Linked DNA regions of Homo sapiens: all the other regions are linked to region 1. Evidence: fine-mapped expression QTL. A gene starts in region 1. Each other region holds a variant in brackets. All regions are shown on one strand. Distances are from middle to middle.

Region 1 (4,206 bases):
TGGCCTCCGGGGACCTCCAGGGAGGGGCTTGATGTTTCCCCCCAGGGAGCCAGGAGGGAGTAGGAAAGGCAGGAAGAGAGAGCATGCCTGAGGCAGCCATAGCTGGGGCAGGAGCAGGGCTGGGGAAGCCCTGGAAACCACAGCAGGGGTTCGAATTTCATCCGGGGGCGTCCCCGCTGAGGGCTTCCGAGCAGCAGAGTGCAGGAGGAAGAAAGCCTGCTGGGAGTGACTCAGGGAGAGTGACCAGGGAGAGAGCCTGGTGGCTGGGTGGGGGTGAGGATTGAAGAGGAGGAATGGTTGAGGGGCACAGAATGAGCGACCGTGTCCCAAGTCCTCCTTTGAGGGGCACAGCACACGGCAGCTGACAGCGTGTGGCAGACAGAGGGCCAGGCAGAGCGGCGGCAGAGGGGCCGGCACCGCCCCAGCCCCAGAGTCCAGCTCCCGACACACAGGGAGACGGGGGCCAGGGCCTGGGAGCCAGGCTGGGGACGACCTCACCCTGTGTGTCACCAGGAGGGGCGGCACCATCGGGCTCTCCTGCTCCCCGTCCCCTTCCATACCCTGAGGACCAGCCGCATCAAGGGGCTTTGAGCAAAAGCAGGCGTCCTGGGAAAATGACAAGCTCAAACTGGCCTCAAGAACTTTTCACTTCAGGGTTCTTTCAGATAAAGTACTTTATGCATTAACAAATCTCCATCTTCCCGGAAATCTATTCTCACAATTGGAAGCGTGCTCCCTACAAACCGGACAGCCCCATAGGCCCCGAAACAGTGCTTGCTTCTAGGAATTATTCTAGAGTCAAAAGTAAGGTCCTCTTGAGAGTGGATCTCAGGTAACTGTAAGCCCAGCTGGCAGCCAGGTAGCCGGAAAAGCCAGGCTGAGCCAGCACATCCCCGGTGCAGCTTCCTGCAGCGAGCGGCCCCCTCCCCACGACGCCCCCGGGTCTCCCCTCACCACTGTCCCATCGCAGGATCTCAGCAAACCGTTCCCTCCCACGTGGCAGCCCAGGTTGCATAAAGTTGATTCGGGTCAGACCAGCCCCGAGAAAGCATCCCTTACAACAGGAGCGAAGCATGCACCCCAGAAGGCAACGTGCGGCCGCAGAGCAGGGAGACCCGTGCGCCTACAGGGGACCCTACAGGGGACCCGCACCGCCCGCGCGCCCTGTCCCGGGCACCACCAGGCCCCGCACACGAGGCTCACCCAGAGCCGCGGTGCCCTCCCGCCCGCGGGCCGCGTCCAGGCAAAGCCGCTCCGGAGTCCCCGGGCTGCGCGCAGGGCCTGCCAAGGCGGGCGGGGCCCGGACCAGGGACGAGCGCGGGGACCGGCGATGCGGGTCCAGCCTCCCGCGGGAGCCGAGGTCGGGGCTCTGGGAGGCAGAGAAAGGGTTGTGGGCCCGGTTCAGGGTGCAGGGGTCTGGGGGGAGGAGCAGAACGCGGGGCGGGGATGGGAAGCGGGGACCCCGAGGAAGGCGCTGAGGGACCAGGATGCGCGTGCGGGCGGCGGGAAGCCGGCGCCGAGACCGAGGCATCGGGTGCGGGCGGCGGGGACGCGAACTGAGGGGCGGCCGCGGGGAGGGAAGGCGCCGCGGCTCGCAGGGCCGCGCCGCGCCCCAGGCCCCCTCCCCGGCCCCTCCTCGGCCGCGCCTCCCTGGCCCCAGCATCCCTGGCGTCCGCGCCGGCTCCCGGGGCCGCGCGCCCTGGGCACCCACCTGGGCCTTCTGCAGGGCGCTGAGGCGCAGCTCGTGCACGAAGGGGTTCCGCCCCGGGGGCGCCAGCAGCCGAGCGTCGCTGGCCCCTGCGCTGGAGGCAGGGGCGGCCCGGGGTCCGCATCCCCGCAGCCTCATGGCCGCGCCGTCCCGCGGCGAGCGCAGCCGAGCTGCCTGGGGCGCCGAGCGGGGCCGGGGCTAGCTGGGCGCGGGTCTCGGGGCGCGGGCCGAGGATGCGCGGCGGCTGGAGCGGGCCGGGCGCGCAGGCGCGGGAGGTGACGTGGGCGGAGCGGGAGCGCCGGCCGGGGCGGGGCGTCCCTGGAAGCCTCGCCTCCCGCCGGCCGGCAGGGGCGGCACCAGCCGGAGTTCCGCTACCTGGTGGTTTCTCTGGGGTCTGTGGGGGGCCGGGGCCGCTGGGGACCGGGGGCGCCTCCTGCAGCCACTGGAGCACAGGGATCCCCGGCAGGGTCTGCGCCAGGAGAAAGGGAGGTCCCCCGGGCCCGCGAGGCTGCCACGTCGTCCCCTTCCGCCGCTCGGCCCGCCTGCTCGCGGGGAGGGAGGAAGGGGCGGGCACGCGTCCAGCTTACGCGCAAGGCGGGCCAGGCCCTGGGTGCCGAGCCCCGGGCTGTTCCGGCGAAGGCCCCACGCCATTCTTCTTATTCGTTGGGCTCCTAGCTCGCACCGGCGACCCTGGAAGCTGCCCCGGGCTGAGGGAGCTTCTTCCAGCCGCGCCTCAGCCCAGGCGACTCCCGCCTGAGGTCCACTCGACCTTAGGACCCCCCAGACCTCGGGATCCCCTCAGATCTCAGGACCCCTCAAGCCTCAGGACCCCCTCAGACCTCAGGACCCCTCCGATCTCAGGACCTCTCAGGCCTCAGGCCCCGCAGGGATGGCCCAGGCAGGAGGCGCACATAGGGGCCCTGACTGTCCGTGCTGGTTGTGCAGGGGCTGCGATGAGATCCCAGCGCTTTCTCACCCGTAGCTGCTTTGGCTCGGGCATTGCCCTTGTGGTGCTCAGGAGCCGTGTGAGGAGCCCCAGGGTGGGGCCCATAATTAGCCGGAGCGAGAGTAGGATGGGCTCCTGCCTCCGGGTGAACACGCTTGGATTTCAGAACTCACGCAGGCCTTCGGTCACAGTGCTCACGGCTTCCTCACCCCGGCTGGCCCTGTTGGTTCCTTCATGGCCAACGGACCTCACCCAGACAGAGCCGGTTTGGGCCACCTGGCCAACCCCCCAGGGTCCTGGCTCCTGGGGATGTCACTGCTGTGTTGGCCCCAGCTGGGCCCCATCCTCAGCAGACGCCAGGGAGTGCCCCGACCCCTCCAATGACCCTGCCTGCGCCCTTGTGGACCTCATAGTGCAGCGGGCTGGCAGAGACCCTTCTGTGTCTGAGACCGGGGTGAGGGCCAGGGGTCTGTGCCATCCACATATCATGCACAGAGAAGGCCCCGGCAGGCCAGACCCGCTGCATGGCCTTATTCCTGCCCCATAAGAGTCCCAGCCCATATTCCTGCCCCATAAGAGTCCCAGCCCATGCCTAGCAGCAGCACCTGTCCCAAGTGCCACACCCACGGGGATGGGGTGAGCCCTGTGTGCTGGTGGGCATTGGTGGCTCTGTGGCCCAGCCACCAGCGTTGCACCCACCTCCTGGGCTTTTAGTGGCCACTTGCTCTGATCCCCAAAACCAGAGCCCAGCACCCGAGGCCACCCAAGGCTCCTCACCGAACTGATCATCAAGAAAGCCCAGGACACAAAGCCTGCCAGCCACAGGGCAGCACCTGCACCCCAGCGATCCAGGCGGCCCCACCTGCTGCCTGAGTGCTCTGGAGAGGAGGGGCCCTAGGGTGTCCCAGTCCTGGGATGAGAGCAGCCTCAGGACTGGACTTGGAGAGCCATGAAAGTGGGGTCCTCCCAGAAGCACAGGCCAGGAAGCGGTGTGTGGCGGAGGGGAAACCTGCTGGAGATGGTGCAGAGCCAGATTCAATGGGGAGAGCTGCCAGAGAGTCATGGCTGTGTCCCCAGAAGATGCAAAAGTCCTAACCCACAGCACCTGTGGCCGCGACCTTATTTGGAAACAGGGTCTTTGCAGATGATCAGGTTAAGAGGAAGTCATTAGGGTGGGCCCTAGTCTGAAATGGCTTGTGTCCCTATAGAGAGGGAGATTCGGTCTCAGAGACAGACACAGAGAGAGCTCCATGGGAAGGCCAGGGTTCTGCTGCTACAGGCAAGCAGTTCCCAGGAGCTGGAGAGGCCTGGAGCAGGTCCTCTCTAGTGCTCTCAGAGGGAGCCTAGGCCTAGGGTGCCATGATCGCAGGCTTCTGGCCTCCAGACTGGGAGAGAATAAATTCCTTCTGCTTTAACCTGCAGAGTGCAAAGTGAGTTGGAACCCAGGGAAGGAGGTGGGGAGGCTGGGGGAAGAACCTCATACTGCCCGGCAATCTAAGCAGGGTCAGCAGGTTGTCCTTGAGCCAAGGTCGGTGGAAAGAGGAGTCCCTCT
Region 2 (4,000 bases), 23 kb before region 1:
TGAGACAGAACAGAGGAGGCGGGGAGCTCGGCCCAACAAGGACATGGGGAGTAAAGAGAAAGGGTGCCAGGAAAGCACCACGAAGCCATTGCTGCCCACAGCACCACATTCAGCCAGGTCACCTGCAGCCTGCTTCACACTACAGAACCCCCACTTTCTAGCTGTGGCTTCTCAACTCAGCAAAACTGAAAGCCTGACTTTGATTTGGCCTTGATTTACTTTGCTTGGTTATATATTTGATACCCAATTCCTATTTTATGGTTAAAACGTTTCAAAAACAAACCAAGATAAAGCATAAGAGAATTTTAAAAATCTAGAAAGGCTAAATGAAGAACTAAAGCCCGTGATGATCCTGTTGCCCCTAAAGAACCCAGGCTGCCCCAGGTCACCACTACCCAGCAAGCTGCTCAACGTCCACCCACTCAGCAGGGCCCAGAGTGAGGGACCCCCAACGCCCAGGCTGCCCTCTCCTATGACTGCACCATGTCTGCACGCAACGGTGCGGCAAACCCGGGACCCTAAGTGGCCGTCTTCCCCCTGCACCTAACTGCATGTCTGAGTGTGGCCCTGGGTATCAAGGAGAACCGAAGCTCAGGCAGATGTCAGCTCCCATCAGCCTCTTGGCCGTGAAAACTTTGCTGTACATACAGCCCACAGATCAGACACCTTCCAGAGAAAGGAGGGGCCTGGGCGTGCCCATTACACCTTTCGGAGGCCAGGCAGTGAATGCTTTAGGCTCTACAGCCACACGGCCTCTGTCCCAACCACTTGGCCCGGTTCCCCACCAATGCAGCCCTGAACATCACGCAGGCCAGCGGGCGTGCCCGTGCTCCAGTAAAACTTTACTTATAGTCAGGCAGCAGCCTCCAATTAACTACTAATATTCCTGTTTCTGAATAAAAGATTCAGGGAGCCCCTCCAGAATGATGAGAGATGTTAACAACACATGGAAGGGTTGTCAGAGCTGTGGTTATAGGACACGCGTGGTAACTTTTAAGATACTGAAAATATTTATCAAAGTATTTATGATATCTCAACATTTTCATTTGCTAATGGCAGATACTTTCAGTGAAAGCACAGCTTTAGGAATTTAAATGAAACAAGAAAATATTGTGATTTAGTTTAATTTTTTGTGGTCTGTTTTGGATCTTTAGTTTAGATGTATTCCTCATCGGGTAGGTGTGCTTTATTTATATTCCGTGCTTAAAAGCCAGGAAGAGTTTAGGTCCACAAAGCAAGGGAAAGACGGCCCTGGAGGGGTGGTGCCAGCAGGCAGCAGGCCAGGCCAACGTTGGCTGACATGCAGTCTCGGAGGGCGGGGAAGGACCCGAGCCTCCTGTCCGAAGGCAGGGCTGGGCCTGGCTCCAGCCAGTTGCTGGCCCTGGGGAGCAGGCCCACTGGCCGGAGCTTCTGCTTTTCCAAGACTGGCCAGAAATGGGGATTTTGATGTCAAGTCACTGGGCCTTTATGATGCGGCAACCTGTTCCCACTTAGCCCAATTTTAATAAGACCAGGTTGGCAGGAGATGCCATGGTGGCCACCTGCCCCCCGAGCAGCCGTTCCCCTCATTGCTGCTGCTCTCACACCTGGAAGATGGCCCCTCCCGGGCCCACGGCACCCGCACCAGGTCCAGCTGCCTCTGCATGGGGGCCACTGAGGCAGGGACCTCCCTAGGCAGGAGGCCTGTGTCACTGTGGTGCCCTGTCACTGCAGCCCAAGAGGCCGTCCACTCACAGCCTGAGGGTCTGGGGGAGGCCACCATGGGCAGGGCCAGAGCTGAGGGTCTGAGGTGGGAGGGGTAAGGGGGCTGGCAGTCACAAAGCCAGGAGAGGGTGTCCAGAAGCCTGACTTTCGTCAGCAACAGGGAGCCCCAGCAGGTTCTGGAGCAGAGAAGGCTACGGTGTAGGGGGGTCTCTGTGCTCAAGGGTGTGAAACAATGGCCACACATCCTGCAGACCCCTGGAAAATGAAGCCTCAGAGCAGGACTGTGGCGGAGGCGTGGAAGACAGAGGCAACGGGGAGGTGGCCGAGTCCCCACTGGCAGGGGGCAGCCCTGGTGGACGCTGGGCTCAGAAGGGAAGGACAGATGGGCTAGGGTGGAGACACACAACCCCACTGTGAGAATGGGTTCCCACTGT[T/C]TGGCCGCGTGACCCCCCCCCAGGAGGAGAGCACGGCACACGCGCAACTTACTTCCTCCACAGGGCCGGGGGCTGCTCGGGTTCCTTCTCCGCAGAGCCCAGGGATGCGACAAGTGCGAGGGGCCAGGCCAGCAGCATCATGGCAGCGGCAACCAGGAGCCGGACCGGGAAGAGCGTCAGTGTCATGAGGGCCACCTGCAGACAGAGGGGGGCATTATCCAGAGAATCCATGTAGGACACCAGGCAGCTCCCCACCCGGCAGAGGCTAGCCCAGGGGGACAGCGCGCCCCACAGAGTGGAGAGCTGGGGAGGGGCTGCAGCTGGCACACAGCTGACCAAGGCTGACCAGCACTGACCGAGGCTGACCAAGGCTGACCGAGGCTGACCAGTGCTGACCGGCGCTGACCAAGGCTAACCAACACTGACCAGCACTGACCAAGGCTGACCGGCACTGACCAAGGCTGACCAACATTGACCGGCACTGACCAAGGCTGACCGGTGCTGACCAAGGCTGACCAACACTGACCGACACTGACCAAGGCTGACCGGCACTGACCAAGGCTGACCAACACTGACTGGCACTGACCAAGGCTGACCAACATTGACCGGCACTGACCAAGGCTGACCGGTGCTGATGCCGACCAGCCCTCACCATGGCTGTGGACACTGGCCAGTGCTAACTGACATGCTCCACACCCACTGCCCGCTTCCTGCCTCCTTACTGGAGCTGCCATGCGAGTGGCTTGGGAAAGACACAGTGGAGCTTCCTCCTGCAAATTCAAGGGCCACTCTGACGCACAGCACACAACCCCAGGCAGCTCCACCCCGCAGGACGCACCCCCAGGCAGCTCCGCCCCCCAGGACACACCCCCAGCCCCGCAGGCCTCACTCAGCAGTTTCCCCTGAAATCGTTTATGTGGACATGAGAAAGCATACGCCACCCTAGGCAGTGTTGGTGACAGGGGGAGGTAGCTGGCCTGCAGTTTGCAAGGTTGGACCTCAGACCACAGAGAAGACGGCAGAATGAAGGTGTGACTTTCCAGTCAATGGAAGACCCGGCGCAGGAGAGTGAACTGGCGGGAGGGCAGGGGCGCAGGTCAATATGGGGGCTCAGGAAGGCCCCCCAAGCCAGGGCAGGCCCCCACGCCAGGGAAGGCCGAGGCTGCGGGATCCCAGGCAGCCCAGGGTCTGAGGATGGAGGTCCCTCCGGGAGGCGGGCAGGACTCCGTGTAGAGGGGCGGGAGGCTTTGGGTGAGGGGAAACACCAGTCCTGAGGTGCAGGTTTAGTGCAGAGACAGAAAAGACCCAGGAGACACAGATCGCAGTTGGCTCCCCAAGCAGCAGCCATCCCTAATTTCTGATGCCTGTCATGAGAGCGCTCCCACTCTGTTTCCTTGGTTTGTCCCTAGATTCTTTTGAGTTCTCAACGGAGACCAGCATAGCCCAAGAGAAACATGCCTGCCACATGTGTCATTTTAAATTTTCGAGTGGCCACATTTAAAGGGAATGACAATTTAATATACAGCTCATTTCGCCCGGTATATCTGAAATACCATTTCGACACGTACTCAACGTAGAAGTTGCTACTGGCTAGTTTGCATTTTCTCCCGCTGTCTTGGATTGTGCAGTGTGCATTTCACTCTCACAGCTTTATGCCACCTGTGTCTCCACCCTGTCAGTGCCCAGTGGTCAGGTCAGCCTGTTGGGTACGCAGATCTAGATGATGTTTGGTTTGCGAGAGATGACGACCTCTAATTTGCCTCCCCTTCCCCGCTTCTGGGGGCTGCTCCTCACCCCAGCTGGGTCCCCGCTTCAGCATCACACTCGCTGCACCAAGCAACCACAAATCTGTTATCCCGCCA
Region 3 (4,000 bases), 29 kb before region 1:
GTGAGGGCCCCGGCCATAGGCGACGCCCCTCGTCCCAGCAGCTCCTTCCCTCAGCACCGCCCACTGCCAACCCAGGACCCGCTGTGCCCCAGAACGTGCTGTGCTGTGCTGATGGCGGCTGTGAAGGAAGCACGAGGACAGAACGGGCCCAGATGCCCTGAAGAGCACCGAGGACAGAGCTCTGGTGGGTCAGGGCTGCGCACAGGTGGGTGAGGGGCCACGCAGGGCTCCCTACAGTCCTCCCAGAGCAGTGGGTCCATGGGATGCGGCCCCCAAAGATGGGTCCACATGCTGACCCTGGAACCTGTGAATGAGGCCTTATTTGGAAAAAGGTTTTTACAGAGGTAACTCGTTAAGGATCTCAAGATGAGAGCATCCTGGATCACCCAATGACTGGTCCTTATAAGAGACTCATAGAGGAGACACTTGGAGGGAGCCAGGCCAGTCGACCACTGAGGCAGAGTCAGAGGGACGCAGCCCCCAGAGGAGGAAGAGGCAGGAAGGGGCCGCACAGGGCCTTCGGCCCAGAGACGCCTTGATTTTGAACATCTGGTCCCCAGATGACGAGAGGGTGAATCTCTGCTGGAGTGAGCCCCCGGCTTTGGGGAGGGGTCATGGCAGCACCAGGTGCTCAGGTCCCTGGTTCACGGCACAGCCGCGGTGCATGGGCAGCCCTGCCGACCTGCTCCCAAAGACTTCCAGAACTGCCATCTGATAAAGGTGAGCCACCCTTGCCAAGCAGACCTGGAGCAAGCACTGTAGCCTGTTATGATAGTGAGGGCACTCAGGTAGCAATAAAAATAACAATTACAACAACGAAAATTACACAGGAAACCCCAACACAGAAAATGGGGCACAAGGCCAATGTGCCCGGCGGTGGGGGCTCGATCACTCCCAGCAGCGTGGTGGGGGGGGGGTCCCTCACTCCCGGTAGGGAGGGTCTCACTCATTTCCAGCAAGTGGGGGTCCCTCATTCCTAGCAGGGAGGGATCTCTCATTCCCAGAAGGGGGGGTCCCTAAAAACCAGCAGGGAGTCCCTCATTGCCAGCAACAGAGGGGGTCTCACTCATTCCCAACAGAGGGGGGACCCTCACTCCCAGCAGGAGGGGAATCTCTTATTCTCAGCAGCAGGGGGATCTCTCACTCCCAGCAGGGCAGGGTCCCTCACTCCCAGCAGGGGTGTCTCACTCACTTCCCCAGATCGGGATGTCTCTGCTCTCTGCCTTCATCACGATGGAGGACATCGTCATGGTCACAGGGATGGCGTCGAAGTAGGACGAGTGAGGCGCGAGCGTGAGGATGGCCGCCTCGGTGGGCAGCGCCTGCCGCCCCTTCACGGCCACCCGGTGGAAGCCGCCGGCGAACCACATGGTGCGCATGATGGCCTTCAGCAGGAAGTCCACAACCCTGCAAAAGAGGGCGCTGCGTCACGCGGGCACACGTCCGCAGTCTCGGAGTCTGTGTGAGGCACAGGGGCGGTCCCACGGGAGAGCCCTCCAGGGCGCAGTCCAGGCCACGGGCTTCCTGTGGTCGCCGCCGCTGGGACATCTGCTTGAGGGAAGAAAAGACGCCGCGCCTTCCTGGCCTCCGCCTGTGTCCTCGCTGGCTGCGCTCTCACCTACGAAGGAGGCCGCGGGGCCCTGTGTGGTGGTCACGGGCCACGCGGCAGGCAGTGCTAAGACAACATGAGACTCCGGAACACAGACAGCACAAGTCCCAGGCCAGAAGACCTCCGGACCTTCATGTTAGCAACTTATTTATCAGCATCCTATCATTTTGAAATGGGAAAAACATTAAAACACCTAAAACGCATATCGCAATATGGGGGGGGGGGCGCTCAGAGCTGAGGGCGGAAGCTGAGACCTGCGTGCGAACTTCCCCATCTCATCTCCACAGGAAGCCCGGGGTTCCCACAACCAGGCGTTGTGTTATTACAGTGAGCTGTTTCTGGAGGAAATTAGATGGCCAATAAATTTGGAAAATAAAGTAAAAATCAGCCTAGGTTAACTGAATTTGTGTACTCTTTATCTCTTTTTAAAATAGGTACAAATTTAGCCTTTTAAATGTGTGTATTCTCTTTCATATGAGGCTACAGATTAGGCTGTTATTCCACACCTCAGGGAATTGACACGCAGCAGAC[A/G]GCCACGGTGTGTGAGAAGCCACAGGTCAGGCACACAGAGAACATGATTCAGCCTCATGAGAAGCCACGGCTCACTCGGCCACTGGGTTAAGTGGGCGCATCACACTGGGTAAAACTACTGCACAGAGAAACAAGAGCCTGAAGCCTTACTGGATTCACATTGCCCTGGGACAGATGATCCTCCCAGAAGACTTCCAGGACAGGGGTCCCCATGGATCTGAGCCAAGGCGGTTGCTAGGAGGGCACAAAGCCTCCTCTCGTGGGGCCACCTTGGAATGGCCTTTGTGTATGCGATGATAAACAATGGTGTAGTTACACATGGAGATGCTGGGGACCAACCCAGGGTGCTGCTTGTCTAGAGGAGGGGGGATTACACAGGTGTGCACTTCTTCACCACCTGTTCAGCTGCATATTTAAAAATGTACTTTTCTGGCCAGGCATGGTGGCTCACGCCTGTAATCACAGCACTTTGGGAGGCCAAGGCAGGTGGATCACTTGAGGTCAGGAGCTCAAGACCAGCCTGGCCAACATGGTGAAACCCTGTCTCTACTAAAAATACAAAAATTAGCTGGGCATGGTGGCAGGCGTCTGTAATCCCAGCCACTCAGGAGGCTGAGGCAGGAGAACTGCTTGAACCCAAGGGGCGGAGGTTGCAGTGAGCCGAGATTGCGCCACTGCACTCCAGCCTGGGCAACAGAGTGAGACTCCATCTCAAGAAAACTAAACTAAAAAATAAAGATGTACTCTTCTGTGCACATGTTATTTTCCACAAAAAAAAAAAAAAAGTACAAAAACAAAAGCCAAAAGACAGCAATTGATGCCTAAGATGGAAGAAACAAGGCAGCGGCGGAGGGAGAAGCGAGGCTGCAGAGGAGGCTGCGGCGGGCACAGGAGCCAGTCTCGGGCAGGTTCAGGGGCAGGAGAGAGGACAGCAGGAAAAAAGGGATTAAAACCCGGGCGGCCCTTAGAGGAACACACCTGCCAGCCCCGAAATCGAATTGCAGGGACAGACGGTGCTCAGGGGAACTGTACTGGGTGTCGGGGCAGGGAAAAAGCAGCCTCAGCTCTTCTCTAAAGATCTTGGAGGAATTTTATACCCAAACTATCCACATGTGAAAACCCGGACTGCTGGTGTGGATGACAGCCTCAGAGAAAAGCTCCGCTTGCTGTGGGGTTGGGGACCCAGCACCCACTCACCCCAAGGCAAAGGGAGCCAGCACAAGCCCAGGGTGCTCAGGTGCCTGGGCAGCCCATTCCCAGGGGAATGTGAATCAGGAGACAGATCTATCTGCATACACAGGAGCGGGGATCTCCATCAGCACCCCCAGGAAATCCACTCCGTCCTACCGCCCTCACACGGACGACACCCAAGAATCCTGAGACGTGTGAGCAGAGCAGCTGCATGGCAGAGAAGCAGAGGACTGACCCCAAGGAGACAGAAAGGGTGGGCATCAGAAGAGGGGTGCAAAACATCCACCACGCTCGCCAAGAGAGTCTGGAAGAACAGGGCGCTGAGGAGCATCAAAGAACAAGAAAACACTCTCAGAAACCAAGACTGTCACTGTGGAGACAAGCAACTCACAGGAAAGACTGGGAAATGAGGAGGAGGAAATCTCCCAGAACATGCAGGGGGAAAAGGAGGAAGGCCGCTGAGGCCTGCATCTCCTCAAGCCAGCTGGCATGTGGAGGTGGGTGGGGGAAGCCCACACGTCTAAGCGTGAGGGGCAGGCGCAGGCCCCGGCTCTGCAGGTTCCAAATGTTCTGCTGTGAGCAGAGGCAAGAGGCAGAGTGGAGCCGGCCCTGGAGAGGACCTATACACATGTACACAGCCTGAGTGCTGGCTACGGTGCCAGGCCGGTG
Region 4 (4,000 bases), 46 kb before region 1:
TTCTAAAATAATCAGTGAGGCCCACAGGCGATCTCTCCTTGAGCGCTGTAAAATCTGTTCTCTTCCTCCTAAGTCCCCAAAAGTAGCCAGTATTGGCAGCAGTCCGGAGCACAGGTGCTGGGCTTGGAGGTGGGAATGCATTCCCCTGGCTCGGCGCCTACTCAGCTTTTTGTATTGTTCAGAGCTGCCTGTGGTGGGGGTTGAGTGGAGCTTTGCGGGACAGAGACTGCCGGGCCCATTTCTACCCTCGGACACATGCTTTGGGAGGGAGAGGATGGGAACGTGAGGGAACGGGCCGCCCAGCTGAATCTTCAGGGTGTCAGCGGAGTGTGAACAAAGTGGCTCGGAGGTCAGAGCCAGGCACACTCTGATGGGCCCGGCCGTGGCTGTGTTCCCCTCTGGGCTCTCTGGAGAGGCGAGTTCCCAGCCATGCCCCGACCTGCTGCAGCAGGAGCCTGGGGGTGGGGCCGGTGGACCGAGGCTGATGTGGCTTCCAAGTGGCTCCTGCAGCTCAGGTCTGGCAGCCGCCCGGTGGAGGGGAGGCTCTAGCTCCACTGGACAGAGCTTTGCAGGAGGAAGCACTAGGGAGGCATTCACGTGGGGGTAAATCCAGGTGGGAGGACCTGGTTGCAAGGACAAGTGTGGGGGGAATGGGACCTGAGGGATGGAAGGTGCTGAGGGAGGGAGATGGGGAGGGCGTGTGAGCTGACGACACCGAGGGAGGGAGAGGGGGAGGGCGTGTGAGCCGACAGCACTGCCGGCCATGCAAGCAGGGGACCTGGGACCATGGGAAGCGAGGACATTCCCTCTTCCTAACTGCATGCACGACAACTGTGTAAGCAGCACAAGTCACCTTACAAGATTAAATGTGCAACCACCACTCCACTCTGCCAGATAGAGTAAGGGCACCGGTAAGTATCACACAGGCAGATGAGCAAAGGTAGGCGTGGAGGCCGCCGCACAGATGTGAAGTTGGCCCAGGCCAGCGCCCCGCTGGCTCATTTAGGGCACAGGAAACATAGGACCTGGGGTGACCAACGGCTGCAGGCAGGTCTGGAAGAACCAGTCATGCATCTTCCCAACGTCAAAGAGGGTGAAATGCCATCAGAGGGAAACAAGGGGCGCACAGCACAAGGCCAAGCACGCTTCACCAACATGCATGAAGCTGGTTCCCGCACTTCTGCAAGAATGCCTTTTCCTAACGCTGTTGCCTATTTTAAATATACAGAGAGCAGCACTCTGGGAGACACCCCTGACTCGGCGATGGGGGAAGGAGCTGCTCACTTACTCGGCCATGACTCGCCGCACGTTGCTGGCATACAGCGCGGGGTTCCTCTTCTCCTCCTCAGAAGGGCTGTACACAGGAAGGAACTGAGCACACAGAGAAGCTGCGTTAGTATCACAAGACGCTGACCTCAGCAACACCACTGTAACGACAACTGGGAGGCTGACAAAATTAAGATCTGTCAAAGTAACGCCCATTAGAACCGTCTTCAAAGTTGTCATGTGCACGTGTGTGTACGCACACACACACCCCCATGATGCATGAACTGCACACGTGTGCACCTGAACACTCACCCTCATTGGTGCTCCCTGGGAGCACCTGCTGCCTACATCAGAACATCTGGCTCTCTGATCTACACTCACCCCCGTCAGTGCTCCTGGGAGCGCCTGCTGCCTACATCAGAACATCTGGCTCTCTGATCTACACTCACCCCCGTCAGTGCTCCTGGGAGCGCCTGCTGCCTACATCAGAACATCTGGCTCTCTGATCTACACTCACCCCCGTCAGTGCTCCTGGGAGCGCCTGCTGCCTACATCAGAACATCTGGCTCTCTGATCTACACTCACCCCCGTCAGTGCTCCTAGGAGCTCCTGCTGCCTACATCAGAACATCCAGCTCCCTGATCTCACAGAGGGGCTTACGCCCATTTCTGACAGCATCAGTTTTGTAATGGGGATAATGCAGCACGTTATTCCTACATTTGGAACAGATTATTGGCAGCGTTTTGCCACCTCTTGCATTTTGAAACTAAAAGAAATTGTCCAGTGAATTTGTCCTTGCCTGAGTGACACTTACACAGCATTTTAAATGAATATGACCCACATTGCACACCGTGCAGGAAAGGGCACAAGACTACCCTGGATGTCCTTTTCTCTAATA[C/T]GGAATATTTCAGAATACAGGAACATCCTGAAACCCCAATTCTCGCTGTTATTTCTAAAACTTCCGTAAACTGCCATGGTTCCTTGCATCAACATTTGCATCTTGTATGAACAACGTCAGTAAGGACAGAGCAGTTTTGCACAGCCATTCACTTTCTTTTCAACTCTTAAAATTAGAAACCAGGCCTGTAACACAGCCATTCAACACCAGGGAGCCCTCAGGAGCTCAAGCTCAGTCCCTGTGTTCTGTGCTCGAGGCCTGGCCTGCACCCTCCCGGCCACTGCCCATCCAGCCACATAATCCTGCTGGGTGGGGGAACTGCCGCCCTCAGGCCCGGGCCAAGGCCCTTCAGCCCAGTCCTCTGTAATGAGAGCAGCTTATCCTCTATGGAAGTGAACAGCCGGGCTGAAAGCCGGGCTTATCAGTATATTTCGTAGTGCTCTCCAATATTTACTGGAAGGCAGCAAATTGTTTTATTAAATATTTAAGTTGCATGTGACTCATCTTTTATTTCCAGATGCAAGAAGTGCATATTAATTCCCCTTTTAAACAAAAAAAGAACTACTCCTCATCGACTTAGAAAAAATTGTGCAGGCTACACAGAGGTGACTATTTAGCCCAAGGTCTTGACTCTGGAGACCTGGGTCAGGCTGAGAAGGGGGATCTTTGACTATGTATTAAACAGAGCATGGTGCTATGACAAACTCAGCGGTATTAAATATGTAAAGTAAAACTAAGAGCCAAACAAATAATTATTTGCATGTGGGCCAGCTTCATATGTCCTTAAGCTACAATACCCATAATAATGAATGGTAGGTTTAAAAAATCCTTTCCAGCTGGGTGTGGTAGTTCACGCCTGTGATCCCCGCACTTTAGGAGGCCAAGGCGGGAGGACTGCTTGAGCCCAGGAGTTTGAGACCAGCCTAGGCAACAAAGTGAGACCCATCTCTACAAAAATTAGCTAGGCATGGCGTGTGCCTGTGGTCCAATTACGTGGGAGGCTGAGGCAGGGAGATCACTTGGGCCCAGGAGGTCGAGGCTGCAGTGAGCCCATCGCTACACTCCAGCCTGGGCAACAGAGCAAGACAAAATGCTGTCTCAGAAAAACAAAAAACAAAAACCCAAATCTTATCCAAGTGGTTCAGACTCATAAGAGAGACATAAAGTCATTGAGGTAAAGCAACCAGAGGCTCCTCGAAGGAGCCCTGAGAAACGGAAAGATGGGAAAGCAAGACAGGTGATATGCCACATTGTACAAGGCTTATCTGGGCATCCTGGTGTAAGCTCGTGTCTGCATCAACCACTGTGAAGAGCGCTGTGTAACTCTGTATCCATACGAACCTCGATTTCCACTTGGTTGTGAAACTGACACAGCGTGAGCCACAGGATTTCCAGCCTTAAAAACAGATTGCACAATGTTGAGCAGATTTACAACTCGGGTTAACAAGTAAATTACTCCCAATTCTGGGGTGAAACCTCCAGACGCGCCCTCCAGAGGGCGCTACTGGGCAGTCAACGCTCCCACGGAGGGGGTGCCGTGCCCACCCAGCCCGAGCCCCAGTGTGACGTACAGCCGTGGGTGGAAATGCTGCTTTTCCGATTCAACACCTGCTTATGTCCTTGGTTCGTCTAGCAAGACACCATCTCCTGCTTGTTCTCCAGCTCAGGAGACCTCGTACAGCCCACACCTGTCCCTCCACACCTGTCCCTCCTCGCTGTCCCCAGGCAGCACAGGCCCTGAGTCATGCCACCCCTCCAGCCTGGATCCAGAGTTCCCAACCTCAGAACCAGGATCACCATGCCTTTGCCGCAGGAGTTGACATGGGAGACATTTGG
Region 5 (4,206 bases), 65 kb before region 1:
TCTCCCTGTACATCACTGGGATCACACATAGCTGTATTTTCAGGTTCACTAATATTTTCTCTTGTCGGGTCTAATTTACTATAGTCTCTGCCAGGGTATGACACAGGCAGTGGATGTCAGCCTGTCTCTTTCCCAGCCAACCCAGTGTTTACCTAGTAGAACCATTCACAAACTGGCACTGGAAATAGGGATGGAGATGAGTGTGGATCAATAACAAAGAGCTGACCCATCAACAATAGCCTAGGCTGATGCAGTTATCACTGGACTCCCAACATGTCGGAAGCAGGGTCCCATACTTAGCCCCAGGTACCATTCCTGGGAAAGGGACTAGCCAGCCCCCTGGAGGCAGGTTGATCACACTGGACTCTTCCATCATTGAGGGGAGTATCTCTTGGTTTCAGTTTCCCTTATTCCAGATATGGATATGTCTTTGCTGTCAGTGTTTCTGACAGCACCATCTGTGGGCTTGATGAATGGCTTATTCACTATTGCCCACCTCCTATGGCATTGTTAAGGAATTTACTTTACAGCAAAGGCAGCATGGGAACAGGTACACACTTGGAATCCCTACGTTTCCCATCACCCAGAGGTGGCGAGTCTGATTAAGCATGAGGATGACTTCTTGAAGCTTTAGGTGTGCTGCCCATGGGGAGGCAGTGCCCTAGAACATTGGACTGCCATCCTGATGGATGACATAGTGCCTCGAACTGTGGACCAAGACATGGCACCATTTCATAGCCAGAATAATGTCTGTAATGTCAATGGGTGGAATTAGGACTGGCCCTGCTCACCACCACATCCAACACTTACTGCAGGGTGGCTGGTGCTGCTGTTCAGAAGATCCTTCACCTCCTTTGAGGGGCTCCCTTGCAGGACTGTACGTCTCTGGCTGTTGAATTCAGCTGTGACCACATGGCTTACTGTGGCCAATGAACCAGGAGTGGGCCTGCTGTATTCTGCGTCTGTGCAGCAGATATAGCATCTAGGCAGGCTTGCTTGTCACCTCTTCCCAAAGCCATCTGACTGGCTGAGTCCCAGGAGGGGCTGCTGTGCTGGGCTGGATGCAGATGGTGACATGGAGCAGAGCTGCAGCTGACCTGCCTGGGAGAGACGGGCGAGGACCACATCTGTTTAGCTGACCCTGACATTTTATTGGTTTACATTTGTTACCGCAGCATCAATGATCCCAGGTGGGCTGATAAACCCATTCACATATTTTTGCTTTTCTCGTCTGTGACATTGGGCTCTTTTGCTTTCAAGGTCCTAGTTCCCAAGGCTGGAATGCTCTTACCTGGGACCTCAGTGATCCATCTGCTGCACTGAAAGTTCAGACGGTCATCAGCTATTTGGGGCTGCTCATGCCACTTAGCTAATAGTTCAAGAAAAGCATGCTGTCTTGGTGGGGATGGCTAACCCCAATGAAAGGGCTATCTTGGAGCTCAGTGGATTCTCTAGGTACTTCTCAGGGCTTTCACGACTAATATTGTGACTAATAAAGGCAAGACGACAACTGCATCAGACACACTGGAATGAAAATTTGAGTCCTCTCACTGGGTAAAGAACCCTGACCATCCAAAGTACTGCTTAGGGTCAAGAAAACGTGGAATGGGTAGTGGAAGAAGGAAGGTGTAGCTGCTGATCACAGCCTCACAGCTAGCCACAGCATGAGGACAGTACCGGGCATGCAGGCTGTCCTCTTTGCTTGCTGTGTGTGTGTGAGCATGTGTGGGAGCATATAAGTGTGTGTGCATTAGTGTGAGCATGTGCATGCATGTGAATGTGTCTATGAAGACGTGCATGTGAATGTGCTCATGAGCATGTGTGTACATGTGTAAGCCTCAGCATGAGTGCATGTGAGCATGTGTGTACATGTAAGCCTCAGCATGAGTGCATGTGAGCATGTGTACATGTGTAAGCCTCAGCATGAGTGCATGTGAGCATGTGTGTACATATGTAAGCCTCAGCATGAGTGCATGTGAGCATGTGTACATGTGTAAGCCTCAGCATGAGTGCATGTGAGCCTCAGCGTGAGTGCATGTGAGCGTGTGTACATGTGTAAGCCTCAGCATGAGTGCATGTGAGCATGTGTGTACATGTGTAAGCCTCAGCATGAGTGCATGTGAGCATGTGTGTACATGTAAGCCTCAGCATGAGTGCATGTGAGCATGTGTACATGTGTAAGCCTCAGCATGAGTGCATGTGAGCATGTGTGTACATATGTAAGCCTCAGCATGAGTGCATGTGAGCATGTGTACATGTGTAAGCCTCAGCATGAGTGCATGTGAGCCTCAGCATGAGTGCATGTGAGCGTGTGTACATGTGTAAGCCTCAGCATGAGTGCATGTGAGCATGTGTGTACATGTGTAAGCCTCAGCATGAGTGCATGTGAGCACGTGTGTACGTGTAAGCCTCAGCATGAGTGCATGTGAGCCTCAGCATGAGTGCATGTTAGCATGTGTGTACATGC[A/G]TAAGCCTCAGCATGAGTGCATGTTAGCATGTGTGTACATGTGTAAGCCTCAGCATGAGTGCATGTGAGCATGTGTACATGTGTAAGCCTCAGCATGAGTGCATGTGAGCATGTGTGTACATGTGTAAGCCTCAGCATGAGTGTATGTGAGCATGTGTACATGTGTAAGCCTCAGCATGAGTGCATGTGAGCATGTGTGTACGTGTAAGCCTCAGCATGAGTGCATGTGAGCATGTGTACATGTGTAAGCCTCAGCATGAGTGCATGTGAGCATGTGTGTACATGTGTAAGCCTCAGCATGAGTGCATGTGAGCATGTGTGTATCATTGTGTGAGCATGTGTGGATGTGAACGTGTTGTGCATATGTGTGTGTGCACGTGAGCCTGGGAGCATGCAAGTCATTTGTTAATTGATTACTCCTTTTCCCACTTCTCAGCATCCCCACTATTTTACACAGGGAATATTAGTGGTGGTAGATGGTGAACTTTGAAACTTAAGTTTTTCATGTCAGAGAATGTCCAGATGGGTTTGTGGCTGTACCAGAGAAACCATTAGTGGCGAGGAAGACTCATGGGTCTCTACTGTTTCTGGGGAAGGTAAAAGCACCTGTGTTGGGTGGTGTGAGTACAGCACTGTGTTGGAAGATGTCTGAGTGTGTGACTTACTTGTGGACACAGAGCAGCTATGGGTGGGCAGTGCTGGTCCTTCACTACCCCGTTTGCCCTCAGCCCCACTTCTCACATTCCCGAGCTCTGCTTCATGGCCCAGGGGGCCTCTCCTCCCAGCCAGCTTCTGGTTAGGATCAGCATACGGCAGCAGCAGGTGCAGCTGTGTCAACTCTTGCGTGAACACCGGGGGTGGGTTTGCTTTTTCCTGAGGGTCCCACCTTCATTTCTCCTGGCTCCAATGCTGAGTGGAGAACTGAACACACAGAAGCAGAGGCATGTTCGATGACAAACACGTGTGCTGCAAACCACACGAGTTACCCTGCTGTGCACCTCCCTGGGTGCACCCGCCGGGCACGGCCACCCTGCCCACAGCCGGCACCTGGAGCCAGACGCTCCTCCTTCTCGGTCTCACACCAGCCGCATCTTAGCAGCAGCTGCCCCATCCAGTGCTGATGTGAGATGTGCAGATCTAGTTTTTGTTTTAACCCTTGCTTTACTTGAAAACTTGGACATATTCAATCAATTTCAACGGCAGTATTCATGTATTAAAAATGGCAGATGCATACAAGCATGAAGAAGTAAAAATTGCTGTTGCTTGAAATAATGTCATTTTGGTGCACATTCTCTCTCACTGAGTGAGGTCAGACTGCACAGCTCCCTGGTAGCCCATGTCTGAGACTTACCTTCCTGAACAACGTAACGATTCATTTTTCACCCTCCCAGTATCCCCCATAATTGTACACAGGGAAATGAGTGGTGGTGGATGGTGAACTTTGAAACTTCGTTTTTCAAAGTATTAAAAAGGAGAAACACCTGCAGATTGGCCATTTGCAGGCTTTTCTCCTTAAGTTTTTCTTCCATCCTTGACGCTGGTGGAGACACAATCTTGATTCTTCACGTGCAGTTTTGGAGAGTGTAACAGGTGAGCTCGGTCTTTTACCTCTAGTTCCAAACCTTTTACTGACTCAGTAGGACTAAATGCCAGATCCATTTTTCTCTCTGCTTGACAAAACACGCTTAAGGTGCATGTGCTTAAAATTGAGAAATTACGTAAGTCAACCCACCAGGCAG

Evidence for each region. PIP is the estimated chance that this variant, and not a neighbour inherited with it, causes the effect.
Region 2: its variant is fine-mapped to the expression of LPCAT1 in whole blood (TOPMed, PIP above 0.99). The same link has a PIP of 0.9 or more in T cells and activated CD8 T cells.
Region 3: its variant is fine-mapped to the expression of LPCAT1 in testis (GTEx, PIP above 0.99).
Region 4: its variant is fine-mapped to the expression of LPCAT1 in whole blood (TOPMed, PIP above 0.99).
Region 5: its variant is fine-mapped to the expression of LPCAT1 in whole blood (TOPMed, PIP 0.92).

The regions. Positions count from the first base shown.
Region 1 is chr5:1,521,999-1,526,204 of GRCh38, forward strand. LPCAT1 (lysophosphatidylcholine acyltransferase 1) reads right to left here and starts at 1,962. Exons shown (of 14, transcript NM_024830.5): 1 at 1,712-1,962. The coding sequence starts at 1,846. RefSeq lists silencers at 1,150-1,349, 1,620-1,929, 1,950-2,349 and a cis regulatory region at 3,119-3,354.
Region 2 is chr5:1,499,271-1,503,270 of GRCh38, forward strand. It overlaps LPCAT1 (lysophosphatidylcholine acyltransferase 1), which reads right to left. Exons shown (of 14, transcript NM_024830.5): 2 at 2,191-2,333. Among named protein-coding and RNA genes, the nearest start is that of MIR6075, 9.6 kb to the right of the region's middle. RefSeq lists enhancers at 980-1,871, 1,872-2,762, 2,763-3,653. The variant T/C (reference allele first, on the strand shown) is at 2,139.
Region 3 is chr5:1,493,508-1,497,507 of GRCh38, forward strand. It overlaps LPCAT1 (lysophosphatidylcholine acyltransferase 1), which reads right to left. Exons shown (of 14, transcript NM_024830.5): 3 at 1,193-1,407. It overlaps LOC124901162 (a long non-coding RNA gene), which reads left to right. Exons shown (of 2, transcript XR_007059103.1): 2 at 1-2,012. Among named protein-coding and RNA genes, the nearest start is that of MIR6075, 15 kb to the right of the region's middle. RefSeq lists an enhancer at 430-1,629. The variant A/G (reference allele first, on the strand shown) is at 2,141.
Region 4 is chr5:1,476,116-1,480,115 of GRCh38, forward strand. LPCAT1 (lysophosphatidylcholine acyltransferase 1) reads right to left here. Exons shown (of 14, transcript NM_024830.5): 8 at 3,506-3,560; 9 at 1,289-1,371. Among named protein-coding and RNA genes, the nearest start is that of SLC6A3, 33 kb to the left of the region's middle. The variant C/T (reference allele first, on the strand shown) is at 2,165.
Region 5 is chr5:1,456,991-1,461,196 of GRCh38, forward strand. No RefSeq gene overlaps it. Among named protein-coding and RNA genes, the nearest start is that of SLC6A3, 14 kb to the left of the region's middle. RefSeq lists an enhancer at 1-77. The variant A/G (reference allele first, on the strand shown) is at 2,468.